Homo sapiens: one gene and its partner. The protein of the gene in region 2 purifies or fractionates together with the protein of the main gene of each other region. This does not show direct contact. Each region holds a gene or a part of one and is shown on either strand. Other genes may lie near its edges.

Region 1 (7,782 bases), on a different chromosome or scaffold from region 2:
TTCTGTTCCATGTTTCAGAATAACATATTTGAGTGCATGTGAGAACTAAATTGATAAGTGGCTAAGTTAATTTTAAATATGTTTTCAAATTTTGATGCCTGCTCTCAACTTGCAATGAGATAACAGCTATATTTAGCCACCTACCTTTTTAACTTCCAAGAATTAGACTATTTAATGGAAGTGCTTACATCTTATATGTAGCATGAATGGTCATCACACATAGAGAAAAATTCTTATCTGATAAATGGTTGTCTTTTATGACCTTATCCACTTGATATAATATAGGCCTCTTCCAGCTAATAACTGTCCTGCCGTAAGTGATTCCTTCCTTATAAAATTTATACAATCCATAGAATTGCCTAAATCCTCAGATTCTCCAGCCAAATTTATGAAAACTATTTATGAGCCAGAAATGAACTTCTACTATGTAAGTATTCAGTGGAGATAATTTTAGAATTGCAGTTTCTACAGTGGAAGCAACTTAATAACATCATGTCTAACCATACATTCTCACATGAGGTCAAAGGAAGCCCTGAGAAGTTGGGTGCTTTTGCCAAAGTTACACAGCCACTTTGAAGAGGAGCTGTAATTCAAACCCGGGACTTCTGAATCTCGATTCACTGTTGAATGTCCCTCACCACCCCTGTCTGTTTTATAGAAGAACATGATAAGCATCCTTAGGAAGAAAATGCCAAATGACTCGTGATAAAATCAGTGCCCTATTGTAATCTAGAGTTTTGAGTACCTTTTGCTGGTTAGCCAGTCAGAACTTTGTTTACAGTGCTCTTTGCGGTTGAGATGTAGCTGACACAAAGTACCTGTGAGTCTCTGAGAGGCTGCCACACCCTCATTAGTGTAAGCTGCAATGATGCCCCAGAGAGTCTTTGATTTAGTTAATGAAGAAGGGGCAGAGTTCAAGTTCAGGAAATTAAAGAGAAGTAGGCATGTCTACTTTCCTATAATATCTATAACATCTCATTGATTCTCCTTAAACAATTCTTGTATTTGTTTCAATTTTGAAATATGCCAGAAGTCTCTACCTCCCAATTCCAGACACTATTAATTGATATGGTAAGGGATCTTTTAGACAAGCATAAAGAAAAAAAATACTTAAAGAACTTTTTCACAATTACCGTGAAATGTCAAACACAAAGACTTCAATATCAATGAGGAGTAGGAGGAATTAAGTATTAAAAACGCTAGTATTACCAAGGAAAATAAATAAATACTACCAAAAAAAGATCCTGAGAGTCTGAAGTATAATACTCTTTCAAGATCAAGGAGAAGAATCAACTCTTCAATTAAATAATATTATCATAAATCATGCCTGTGCAGAAGGCAATGGGAGGCAAGATTTAGTGCTCAGAAGTGGCCTCTAAAATCTTGACACATACAATTTTCCTTACAGAAAACCAAAAGTTTATCTGAGTCAAAGCATGAATATACTCGGTAGAAGAGTAACAAGAGGTATATCCTCATAACTTACTATTTCAATTGAAGACCAAGTCCGATTCTTGCCTCTTCTTTTAGTAACATTTATTTTATTTAGTAAATAAATAATGATCATTGTAACAGAATATTGCCCTTCGTCTTATGTTTTTAAGTTTAAAAATATTTTTCAAAAATGGTATTGTTTAATAATCTGTCTCCTAAACTCAGAGGATGCAATATTCTACCACTGTTGTCACGTTCCCTTTTGAGCTTGGGGTTGTGTGCCCTTTGGCAGTGTTCGGCTCCCGCACTGCTCTTGAAGTTTAGAAATGTGAATTCCAGAAGAGTAGCTCTCACTGTGCCTCTTGGACAATGACGTGCTCCCATCTCTCCCAGCCCTAGCTACTCTCTGTCTCTTACAACTGATGTTCAGAGGAGTCTGGTATAATTGCCACTTGCCTAAGAATAGGATGGGAATCACTTTCTAAGCTTAGGTTGTAGCGCTAACCTGGATACTCCTGGGAGATTGAAGTGTGGCCAACTATAATGCATTTGTCTTAATTTACTTTGAAAAATTTGTACAGTTCCTAATAATCCTGTCCTCTTACCCTCCCAGAATTGGCAATAGTTTGTTGATTGGCCAACTGGAACTTTGTTCTTCTTTGGAGTTGGAATTATCTCTTTCTAGGGTAGGATATTTGCTATGCATGCTGCCTGTCTGGAAATCATGTCACACCTTGGGCACCCAAAGGTTAGAGGAAAGAAATATAATATCCAAGATGCCATGTTTACTGTAAAGAAATAAGTCATTTAAATATTTCTTTGCTGGTCTGTAGGAATGCATTCATAATTCCAGAAAAGTTTTGTCTTGATGGCTGGGCTTCATTTTTCTTTAGCAATATCTGACTGGAAAAAGTTCTCATGACTTTAGTATGTCATCATTAGTTGCAATGTAATTTCAACATGGCTATCATTCCTCCACTTTGAAAGAAACTCATAGGGAAATAACTATTGAAAAGAAATGGGTTTGATTAACTTCCCTTCAAATTTAGAACCCATTTGCACTGGCAGTTTTCACAGCAATCTATCTGATTTATTTATATGATCATAGAATATGAATTTTATTTCCAATTTAAAATTTTAGAATAGTCCTAACACTCAAAGTGAAGTAGATTATGTCTCTGAGGGCATATAAATTTAATTCAGCCAGATTCTCACCCCGCTTCTCTATGGCATTTTGTTCCTCAAGGCGGAGAGAGTTGTTTGAAATTAACAGAGGCTGGACTTCTAGAACTCTCTTTGCAGGAAGGAGATTAAAAATGGAATAAATCCCATGTAGAAAGCCCGACAGTTGACAGAGACAAGACCTTGAGGCTGCATTTCCTTCCCACCTCTTTAAATTCTACTTACCATTAGAATGATCAAAAGGCAAATGTTTCTGAAGAAGAGCCAATCCATTCCTTTGGGTTTCTCTTGCACGCAAATCCTGTGAGATTCAATTTGAGCCCTCGTCTTCTCAGTTCCGAATTCTGCTCTACAGAAAGATATGCTTTGAGACACCCTTTTAGGAGGGCATGGGTGATAACTGTGGTGATCTCTGGGCAGAGAGATGAAGATATTCTATAATGACTGTTTCCCCACCCCAAACTCCCAGGCTGGTCTGGAAGACTGGCATTGTTTGGGCTCTGGGTAAGAATTTAGACACACCTTGATTCTTATTGCAATGAAACCCTTTGTTGGACACCAAAGAAAAACCTTACAGAGCGAGGACAAGATTTACAGGGAAGATAGCCAGTGAATAATAAATTACTCACAACATAAAAAATAATTAAAATGCTAGGGCCTATCATCATGCTGAATAAAATTAGAAGGCTTCTTCTTACTGCCAACATTGTAAAAGCAAAATTACATATACTGACAACACATACACACACATGTCCACTGCAGAACCCACTTCAAGGAATGATACTTTTAGCAGAGGCCATTGTTGAAAGTCATCAGGACTCAAGTATGGTATAGGAAGAAAGATAGAATAATGACGCTCATTTCAATTCAGTTGAGTCCTGCTTCTCTCTTTAAAATGTCTTGTGGTTGAACCGCACTCTCAATTTTAAAGATTTTCTGAAATAACAAAGTTAAGATGAAGGAACTCTGATTTAACTAGTACCAGTATGTTTGTTTCCATACTTTGGCATTTTCTTTCTTGATTATTCAGTCAAACCTCTACAATATGATATTTACAAAATCATTTTAAAGTAACTACAATACAACATTCTCACTTCTCATAGTATTACCACTGATAAAAAGTACATAATGTGGGTGAGGAACACATTTTACACCACCACAAATATTTATTAAGGAGAAACTGAAGTTGGAAACGTGAGAATTTAATGAAAAAAAGCCCAGAGTGGGATCTGGATATTTTTGAATATTATTTCCCTTTTTCGTGTCTCCCTTTTCCTTTGTTAGTATGGGTTTGAAACAGGGTATAGAGTGTCCTGATGCAAACATTGCAGGCTGGCAGCAACATCAATAAACTTAAAAGAAAATGCAGTTAACTGTTCTCTGATTGATAGATAATACATGTTGGTTGGAGAATTTCAAAGGGAGACTGCCTCCTGTCTTCACTATCCCATCACTGTAATTCAGAAACAAGGTTGACCCTGGTAATAGAATGTATTCTAAGTATTGCTTAGTTTCTTGAGAAAAGTAGTTTTAGTATTTTTGGAAGCCAGATAAAGTAATTTACTTTTGCATTATTTCATGTCATGTTGAATTAGATAATTTAATTTGCCTAAGAGAATTAATGAAACAACTCCAGGTCTTTAAGTGACATTGCTTTTTACAAGGGAAAAACAACATTCTTCTCTATTGTTGTGTTTGAAGGAGATATTTCACAAAGGTCTCTATCTTTTGTTTACACTATAGATGATTTCTTCTACATATAAGATTTTTCTTATATTTTCTTCTAAATATAAGATTTTCTATCTACTTGAATGCTATTTATAGGATGAGTTTTAAAGAAAAGAAACAGGAAGCAATAGAAATAGGTACTAGATCATTTATGTGGGTACCTCTAGCTTTCTCCATTTGAAACTCCTGATTTCAATGGTATCCAGAATTTGAATCCAGATTATAATTATGAACATATTTAAAAGATTCTTCAGTAACTAAGGAGGAACTACCTGAAGCCCCATCATTTCATTTCTGTTTACTCCTTGGAGATTTGTGGGAATGATCTTTTGCTTTAAAGTTTTTTTTGGAGACAGAGTCTTGCTCTGCTTCTCAGGCTGGAGTGCAGTAGTGGTCTGAGTGCAGCTCACGGCAACCTCTGCCTCCTGAGTTCAAGTGATCCTCCCACCTCAGCCTCTCAAGTACTTGGGTTTACAGGTGCATGTCACCACACTTGGTTAATTTTAAAAATATTTTGTAGAGACAAGGTCCTGCTATATTGTCCAGGCTGGTCTCAAACTCGTGGGCTTAAGTGATCCTCCTGCCTTGGTCTCCTAAAGTACTGAGATTACAGGTGTGAGCTACTGTTTCCCACAGGGGATGGATGATTTTACAGTGGAATTCCCAAAGACAAAACTTGGTTATGGTTCTGAGCTTGTGTAGATAAAGAGTAGCTACTTCCGTTTCTCTTGAAGAGTATCAGTCATTGTAGAAACAGAGCATAAAACATTAATGCTTAAAGATACCACAGAGATCATATAATCCAATCTCTCCTATCTTGCCTCTCTCCTACCCATGTGATAGTGATAGTCTAGGGAGGCTGTATGGTTTATTAGGGTCAAAGATAGGCAAGAGTTCCATCTCCTCATTCATAGTCAGTTTATATAAATACCAAGCCACTTTTCATTATTAGCTACGTATGTGAAGGCAAAATAGTGGATGGTTAAACACTATTAGCTTTAAAAGACTTTCCCATACTTTAGAGTTTACTGAACTGTTGGTTCTATGAGCAGAATTTTTAGCAAGTTTTTTATAGTATTTATTTTTGATGTCAAACCAGTGACATTTCATTTGCTCAGATGAAACCATACATTGGCTTTTAGGGATGCTACTGATATTTAATTATTGTACTTATGCTTCTATAATATTGTATAAAGTAGCAAGACACCTTTATTCTCCACATCACATCTGTGTAGAACACAGTGAGAGCTTTAACACCTGTACTTTTCAAATCAATGCCACAAAAGGCAAGGAATTCAATACATGCCAATACAAGTCCTCTTTGAAAAACAGAAATGTAATTTATACAGACAAAGATATTGTGGAAATGACATTAGGGCAAACTTTTCCATCAAATTATTCTAGTCTAGGGTTACTACTGGATATTATTCAAATATCCAAGGACAATTCTATTTCTTGAAAGCAAGAGTTAGGGGGAAGGAAATTTAAAAAATAATTATGGTCCTAAAGTATGGTGGTCAAATGCAGCACAAGTTGTTTCCAGAGCTGACGCAAGCAAAAGGTTTTCATCTGCCTGGGCCTGGGGAGGCGGGGACAAAAGGTAAACAAGGCTTGTCAGGGTTTTGACCTAGAGTCATTGCTGTGAACACATGTCTGTTCACCTACCACACTGAAGATAAACATCCTGTCCCCTCATTAAAGGCAACTTATGTATGGCAACAAGGGGCCGGCCAACCAGGTTATTTAGTGGGTGTTAGAAATCATAGAGATTAAACATCAGTTTCGTAAAGAGTTATGTTATTTCCATAAAGATGATGTTAGTTTACACCCTAAAATCATGCTTACATCCTGACAGAGATGCCTTGTTGATTATCTCTGTGAATTCACAGGTATAGGATGTATTCCAAATAAGTGGAGACAGAAGAGCGTGGCTTCTAGCTGTATGTTAAATAAAGCGTATTACTTACATACTTATTGCATACTTGCTACATACTTATCTAGGAAATATCATCTTAGTTTGCCTCCTGCCTCCCGATGACTACAGTGGCAACCATTCTACAGTGTGATAATTATTTAGATGTCACTCTGGTTTCTTCAGTGACACTGGCAGTGTCCCTCTTATGACAAAGTTGTATCATGTACATGGTTAACCTTTGATGCTGTTAGTTATATATCTGGCAACCTCGACTATGGAATCTGGTCAGCTCAGGATGTCTGAGGAAGAAATCCAGCAATAGGAAGGTCAAAAGGTAGGCAGTGTTTTTTGAAATATATTTCTTAGGCCATTATGTAGAAAATGCAGGTTCCCTGGCCCCAAATTTAGTGAATCAGAAGCTTTGGGGATGAGATCTAGAATTATTCATTCTTAACATACTCTTTAGGTAATTCTCGGGAGGCAGGCTGAAGTTGAAGAATTATTGAATCAGGGTAATCACGTGGCCCTATGGGTGGCCCAGGGAGAAATGGCACCAGGTAAAAAAGAACATTTTTCTTTTTTCTTTTTTTGAGACAGAGTCTCCCTCTGTCACTCAGGCTAGAGTGCAGTGGCACAATCTCAGCTCACTGCAACCTCCACCTCCTGGGTTCAAGCGATTCTGCCTCAGCCTCTTGAGTAGCTGGGATTACAGGTGCCCGCCACCACATCTGGCTAATTTTTTGTATTTTTAGTAAAGACGTGGTTTCACCATGTTGGTCAGGCTGGTCTTGAACTCCTGACTTCAAGTGATCTGCCTGCCTCTGCCTCCCAAAGTGCTGGGATTACAGGCGTGAGCCATGGCACCCAGTCAAAAACATTTTTCTAGTGTGAATAAGATTAGCATCTCTTCATGGGGTGGGCCAGGGGCCGGGGAGAGATACTGGCCATTTATATTTCTTTTTATTTGAAATATTTATTTCCTTTTTCCTGGTTTTCCACTGGGCTGCTGATGTCTTTAATACTGGTTCTTTCATGTACTTTTGTATATGAGAGAAAACAGCCTCTGTCATACGTGTCACAATTCACGTAATTTGCATTTTTTGAATTTGTTTTGATTTTTTTTTGCAATTGATAATGATTATGTTTTCGCATAGGATAGGTTTTTATAAACAATTCTGCTTTCTGTATTAGTTTGTTGTTGTAAACTACAAACTTTCTGTATTTGTTGTTGTAAGTAAGTTATCACAAACTTAGTGACTTAAAACAACACAAATTTATTATCTTACTGTTCTGGAGGTCTGAAGTCCACAGTGAATCTTGGGCAAGGTTAGTTCCTGCTAGGGGTTCTTAGGAATAGATGTATTTCCCTGCTATTTCCTGCTTGTGGAGGCTGCTTTCATTCTTTGGCTTATGTCCTCCTTCCAGCAATCACATCATCTCTGCTTCCTTCCTCATGTCTCCTTTATGTCAGCAAATGTACATGAATTCCCTAGGTTGTATCAAGGTGTGGAATTTCTGGGTCA
Region 2 (7,024 bases):
CACTTTTGGAGGCCAAGGTGGGTGGATCGCCTTAGGTCAGGAGTTTGAGACCAGCCTGGCCAACATGGTAAAACCCTGTCTCTACTAAAAATACAAAATTAGCAGGGCATGGTGGTGCACCCCTGTAATCCCAGCTATTCGGGAGGCTGGGGCAGGAGAATTACCTGAATCCGGGAGGCAGAGGTTGCAGTGAGCCGAGATTGCACCACTGCACTCCAGCCTGGGCGACAAGAGCGAGACTCTGTCTCAAAAAAAAAAAAAAAAAAAAAAAAAAATTTCTGGAGATGGGGTCTCGCTATGTTGCCCAGGCTGGTCTGAAACACCTGGGCTAAAGTGATCCTCCAATCTTGGCCTCCCAAAACGCTGGGATTACAAGTGTGAGCCACACTGTACCCAGCCTATAATTATTTCTTAAAAACCCAGATTTTATCAAGGGTGTGTCATCACTCTCAAAACTTCCCTAGCTTAGCCCATCTTACAAGGCGCTATAGGATCTTCCCAGGGCATCTTCGGCTTAATTTCCTGCCACTTTCTGACCTCAGCCAGTCCTCCCCATGGGGACTGCAAAGTTCTCTGCTAGCCTGTCTCCCATCTGTCTCCCTCACAGTCCAGCTCCGGACCAGACACACTGAAAGCAGAGAGGGATCAGCACCATGAGTGGATGGATGACAGGGAGGAGGAATGCTGGCAGAGCCTGGGGGTCTGGGATTTGGAGGAGCAAGGACTTCATGTGGTACCAGGACCCCTGGGCAGGAATGGACAGGGCTTGGGGAATTAGGTGTGGGGGCTCAAGACAGCTGACCACTTGGAGCTTTGGGGAGGGTAGTGGGATTCACCTTGGTGCTGTCAGGGCTCAGGTGGGCATGGGAGTCCTTGAGTCTGGAGATGGCACTGTGACACAGGCCCCCTGTGACTGCCATCAGCGTGTTGAAATTCTGCAGCTGGTGGAGCCTCTAGGAAGAGAAGCATGCACACAGGGCCGTCACGGGAGGGAGGGCAAGTCAGGAGTTCAGATGACAGCATCCCAGTTGAGGTGGGGTCCCAGGCATGTGTGGACCAATGTGGGGATCAGACAGGTGAGAGAAGGCGGGTGTGTGCGGCAAGAGTGGGACATGCCATGTGTGGGCCTCACAGGGGTGTCAGATGGCTATCTGAGCCGGGAGGGTCAAGCAAGTGATTGACTGATACGAGGTTAGAAAATCTGGGGAGACAGGAAGTACGAGAAGTTGGGCGGATTTGGGGAATAGACAGGTGTGTGTCAGGTGGAGGAGGCTTCAGACATGTCAGGGTGTCAGCCATCTGGGGGTCTGACTGCTCTGAGAGTCACACAGGTGCGGGGAGGCAAGAAGGTGCAGGCTCTGGGCAGGAGCTGGGAGCCAGGCAGAGGTGAATAGGGCCAGAGAGATATGGAGGAGTCAGACAGATGCTAGACAGGTGTGGGGCCACCAGGGCAGCTGGGGAATTCCCTTGCCCTCCTTTTGACAAATTTCGGCAGAGGTTGCTGTGGAGAGAGTGGGGCCAGGGAGGAATGGAAAATGCTCAGACTAAGGACACCCCAGGCGGACGTCGAGACCCCCAGGTCTCAGGGGCCCTGCAGGAGTAAGCAAGCCAGGGAAGACACCAGAGGAAGGGCGTGGTCTGCGTGGAAATACGCAAGGGGGCGCGGCCACAGCGGGGCCGTAGGGCTTCCCTTTTCCCCAGAAGGGCGAGAAGGTGTCCGGAAAGGAGGGGGAAGGGAGGGGAAGAGAAGGGCGTAACACAATGGGGCGGGGCGGGGAGAGCCCGGACGCAATGGGGAGCGATGCACAATCCCGAAGCGACCGCTGGGGCCTGGGGACTGGGGATTGAAGCCTCGGGCTTCCATGCCCCACAAAGGTGGGGGCATGGAAGAGACACTCTCATTGACCTGGGGATAGAATATTCGGGCATAGGGCTTGGGAGCCTGTCACGTCTAGGGCCAAGGGGTGGGGCCACGGTGGGTGCGACGCGGTGACATCAAGGCCAAAGAAGAAGTTACGGTCCTTGGTTGGAATGCCCAGGCTGTGGCCTCGGGGGCGGGGCCGGGAGATGCGTGACGTCACCGCCGGGATGACCCTGTGGGGTCGAGGGTCTGGAAGGGGAAGGACCAGGTGGCTGCGTGCAGTGGAGTTCGCAGCCCCAAGGGGCGGGCCTCACCTGTGCCACGTGAATGAACTTGTCCAGCACCTGTGCACGCTGTAGGGGCCCGGGACGGCTCAGCACCATCACCTGCACCCAGCGGGACACGCTGTTGCTGAGACCTACGGAGCCCTCCAGGGCCGGGCAGCCTCGTACTGAGCCCTGCAAAACGTAGCTCCGCAGGTCCTGGGGCTGGGAGCGAGGTGGGTGTCAAGGTGGGCCGTGGCGCTCAGGCCCTGCCCTTCCATGGCATCCAACTAGCAGTCACGATCTCTGATGTCCTAGCCTGGTCTAGCCGGAGTGACCTTTGTCATCTGTCCCCCAACCCTCAGGCTGCTACATGTCCTTAACGTCACCATGCTCCTCTCCCATCTGAGGAGGCATGTTTCAATATAGCCAGGCACTATATTTGACAAGTAATCATATTAAATAATTTAATCCTCATAACTCTATGAGGTGAGTATCATTCCATTTTAGAGGTGAGACAGTTGAGGCACATAGAGGATAGGTAATTTGCCCAGGGTCACACAGGTGTGAGTCAGGGTGGGCGTCTATATGCTCTTAACTGTACACCTGACTGGTATACAGTAAGCAAAGGGAAGGCTGGGGAAGATGAATTGAAATCAACCTCTATCTGTTCTGCCCAAGGAGTGTTCATTTCATACCCACATCCACTACACTGAGTATATTTGCATACACACTCACACACACAACACACACATACAATCGGGACAGTTTCACATGAAGGAAACAGATCCCCACCTTCCCTTGAAATGATGATGTCCAGATGGCAAAAGCTAATGCATATATATGTTGAAGCACATGAAACTGATCCTTGGGTAGGTAATATATGACAATTTCAAATGGTTCAAGCAGATAGCATTTACCCTGGACCAGGCACTGTTCCTGCAAGGCAGGAACTGTGCATATCCCCTTTTTACAGATGAGGAAACTGAGGCACCATGAATTTAAATGCTTGTTGAATAAATGATAAAATATTTTGAGCACTTACTAAGTGCCAGTCGCTGCAATAAGCCTTTTATTTATTTATTTTACTTTTTTGTTGTTGTTGTTTTTCGAGACAGAATCTCGCTCTGTCGCCCAGGCTGGAGTGCAGTGGTGTGATCTCAGCTCACTGTAATCTCCGCCTCCTGAGGTTCAAGTGATTCTCCTGCCTCACCCTCCCAAGTAGCTGGGATTACAGGCATGCACCACCACACCTGGATAATTTTTGTATTTTTAGTAGAGATGGGGTTTCACCATGTTGGCCAGGCTGGTCTCAAACTCCTGACCTCAGGCGATCTGCCTGCCTTGGCCTCTTTAACTCATTTTCCTGGACCTTCTAGCATACAGGTTTGAGTTTAAGACTTTGAGATCTCTGCCGAATGACCATGCAGGTGTCCTCTCAGTCCTACCTTCCCCCAGCCAATCCCTCCCCTACCCCAGTGTCTCCCCTGCTTGGGACGGGGATGGGAGGGGGTCCTCACCGTGATAGCCTGGAAGGACCGGAACTCCAGGTAGGTGAGGTGCTGAGCCAGCTCCCCCGTCTCCAAGTGGTCGAAAAGCAAGGACACTTTGCGCTTTTTGCCCAGGCCTGGGCTGCTCATTGGGAGTGGGGGGCCAGGGCCACCAGGGCTCAGGCTGGGGGCCAAGAGGGGCAGGGTATTGGAGTGGCTCACAGTTGAGGGCTTGGGGATATAGAGGGAGATGGCAGAATGGCGATGGGGCAGGGAAGAGGGGAGCACAGGGCTGACTCACAGGTCAGAAGAGTCTCCCAGTCTTCTCTGGGCTGAGTTGCCCTCCCGGGCCACGGTGGCCCAGAAACGACCTATGACTTCTTCTAGCTGGGGATCCTGGTGCATCACCTCAGGGTGTCGCATCAGCCAGTACCTGAGAGTGGTTTGGAGATGGTGAGATGAGGCCGGGGGTGGCGAAGGTCTCTACAAGGGGTATTTTGGGCTGAGGAATTTCTAGGTGCTGAGCTAGGGGGTCTCTAAATGTGTGTGGGGGTCCCTGGAGGGTTGGGGTTTGGAGGGGCACCAGGCTTGGAGAATCTCTGGAGTAGGATGGGGGTCTCTTAACAGAGACTGGGGGGATCTGTGGGAAACAGACCGGGGAGTCACTTGGAAGTGGGATTATTGGGAAGCAAGATCGTGGAGCGTCCTAGGAACTAGACTGGGGGCTTCCGGGGGTGAAATTTTTGGAGGGACAGAATGAGGGGGTCTTATGGGCTAGGCTGGGGTCTGTGGGAGGTAGAGATTTTGGGGATCAGAGTTGGAGGTCTCTGGGCACCAGCTAGGAGGGTCTATGGGATCTGGTTGGTGAGGGGGGTCTCTAGGAAGTGGGGGTTCTAAGGAACGGAACTAAGAGGGTCTTAGGAACCAAGCTACAGGTGTCTCAGAAGTGGGATTTTGGCCTGTGGGGCTGGTTGGGTCTGTGGGAACTGGCCTGGGGATTCTCTGAGGAATGTTTTTTGAGGGGGAAGCAGGATGGAAGTCGTGGGTCCTGAGAGTGGGGATCTCGGCCCAGCCCTACCTGACCAGGTGACAGATCTGCAGCCGTCTCAGCTCCTGGGTGTCCCCTGTGGCCTTCTGGTATTTGAGTTCTGGTCAAGGCTCTGTTTTCCAGGATCCATGACCTGCCTGCTCCCCATTCCCATTGCCCAGGTTCTCACGACTCTGCCCTCTGCCCTCCACCCATAGCTCACAGTCCTGGAGGATATGAGGTCAGCAGGCGGGCAGCCAGGTCGGCGGACGGCAGCACCCAGCTGTGCATGGCCAGCACCATGTTGAGCATGTGGTCCTCGTGGCACAGGCTGCCAGCTGAATCTGGGGTGGAAGGAGGGGTACTCTGTGACAGAATGGCCCTCAAGCAATGCAGAGCGTAGCTCCAGATCCTGCCGGACCACCTGGTTCAAAGACCAGCTCTAACGGTGATCCCCAGCATGACCTTGGACAGGCAACCTAACCTCCTGTGCCTCAGTTTCCTTATCTGTATTGTGCATGGGGCAGCATCACCCCTGGCAAGTCTTGCTGAAGATTGAAATAGCACCAGACTGGCCGGGCACAGTGGCTCACACCTGTAATCCCAGCACTTTGGGAGGCTGAATCGGGCGGATCATATGAGGCCAGGAGTTCGGGACAAGTCTGGCCAACATGGTGAAACACCGTTTCTACTAAAAACACAAAAATTAGCTGGGCCTGGTGGCATGTGCCTGTAATCCTAGCTACTCGGGAAGCTGAGGCAGGAGAATCTCTTGAACCCAGGAGGTGGGGGTTGCAGTGAGCTGAGATCAGGCCACTGCACTCCAGCCTGGGTAACAGAGCGAGACTCTGTCTCAAAAGAAAAAGAAAAGAAAAGAAAAAAGATTTATATAAATATATATAATATACACATATATTATATATATATATAAATGTATATATTTCCATTTCAGGAAAGAAGAAATGCAGGTGTTTCTGTTATCTCTAATGTAGTGATTGAGTTTCATTCCACCCAGCCCTGTTCTCATTTTACCTCCAAAAACTGAGGTGGAGAGAAGCGAGTGCTGAGCCCGAGGTTAGGGCCAGGGAGGCTGCTGGGGAGAGGACACTTACCGAAGGACTGGATGCATTTCTCCAGCAGCTCATCTTCGCTGCAGCCGCCCTCACTCAGCAGGCCCAGGTTCATGGAAGCCATGACCTTGCTGATTTCCCGAGGGCTGGGGCATGTCTTGTGGCGGCGCACTTGGCGGGGCCGGCCTCGCCCTCCTATTTTTCCGGTGCATTCCTGGTGGGACTTCCTGTGGGCACAGCCCCCAAGGAGTCATGGGAGCACCTTCTTTCGGACAGACCCTAGAATTCCTTTTGACTCTAATGCCCCAAGGCACCACGGGAGAGGCTTCCTAAAGGCAAAGCCCCAGGGTTACCCCTGACCTACCAGGGACTCTAGAGAGAATCCCCAGGAATATTCCAGATCCCTGGGGGAATCATGGGAGCCCTCTCCCACAAGCAAACTCCCAGGGATATTCCTGCTCCCTTCAGGGAATCAGAGAGGAAGATCCTCAAGACCAGGGGTCCCCAGCCCCTGGGACACAGACAGGTACCAGTCCGTGGCCTGTTAGGAACCAGCGGGCAAGCAAGCACCCCCGCCTGAGCTCCACCTCCTGTCAGATCAGCTGGGGCATTAGACTCTCTTAGGAGCATGAACCCTATTGTGAACTTCACATGCGAGGGATCTAGGCTGCGTGCTGTTTATGATGCCTGATGATCTAGGCTGCGTGCTGTTTATGATGCCTGATGCCTAATGCCTGATGATCTGTCACTGTCTCTCATCACCCCCAGATGGGAGCATCCAGTTGCAGGAAAACAAGCTCAGGGCTCCCACTGATTCTCCATTATGGTGAGCTGCGTAACTATTTCATTATATATTACAATGTAATAATAATAAAAATAAAGCACAGGATACATGTAATTAACTTGAATCATCCCCACACCATCCCCACCCCCTTCCACAAAACTGGTCCCTGATGCCAAAAAGCCTGGGGACCGCCGCTCAGGACTGCTCTGAATCTCCCAGGGAATCACAGTAGAAGACCCCTGGGACCACTCAAGACCCCTCAGGGAATCATAAGAACTCCTTCCCCAGGCATTGCCCCCAACTTCCTCTTGACTGCTTCCAGGGCATCCTGGAAGAGACTTCCTTTTGGCAGATCCCAGGATTACTCCTGGCCTACCAGGGACTCGGGAGAAGACCCCTGGAATCTCTTCTGTCCTCCCCAGGCAGAGGCATGGGAGGACCTGCCTTCAGGAATTGCCTCCTCAGGGCTCCCGTTTGGTCTCTAACACCCTCCCCTCCTTCCTCCCACAGCCCTCAAGAGAGCAAGGCT

The links. The genes of interacting proteins can lie anywhere in the genome.
Region 1: the proteins of RASGRP4 (region 2) and DSG4 purify together in Homo sapiens (affinity purification with mass spectrometry; 2 studies listed by BioGRID and IntAct, with this or other methods). This does not show direct contact.

The regions. Positions count from the first base shown.
Region 1 is NC_000018.10:31,372,019-31,379,800, reverse strand, and holds the start of DSG4 (desmoglein-4 isoform 2 preproprotein), read right to left. Parts: upstream 3,025-7,782; 5' UTR 2,890-3,024; coding exon 2,842-2,889; intron 1-2,841.
Region 2 is NC_000019.10:38,416,216-38,423,239, forward strand, and holds part of RASGRP4 (RAS guanyl-releasing protein 4), read right to left. Parts: intron 5,939-7,024; coding exon 5,754-5,938; intron 4,986-5,753; coding exon 4,880-4,985; intron 4,756-4,879; coding exon 4,693-4,755; intron 4,048-4,692; coding exon 3,916-4,047; intron 3,799-3,915; coding exon 3,645-3,798; intron 2,350-3,644; coding exon 2,176-2,349; intron 954-2,175; coding exon 837-953; intron 1-836.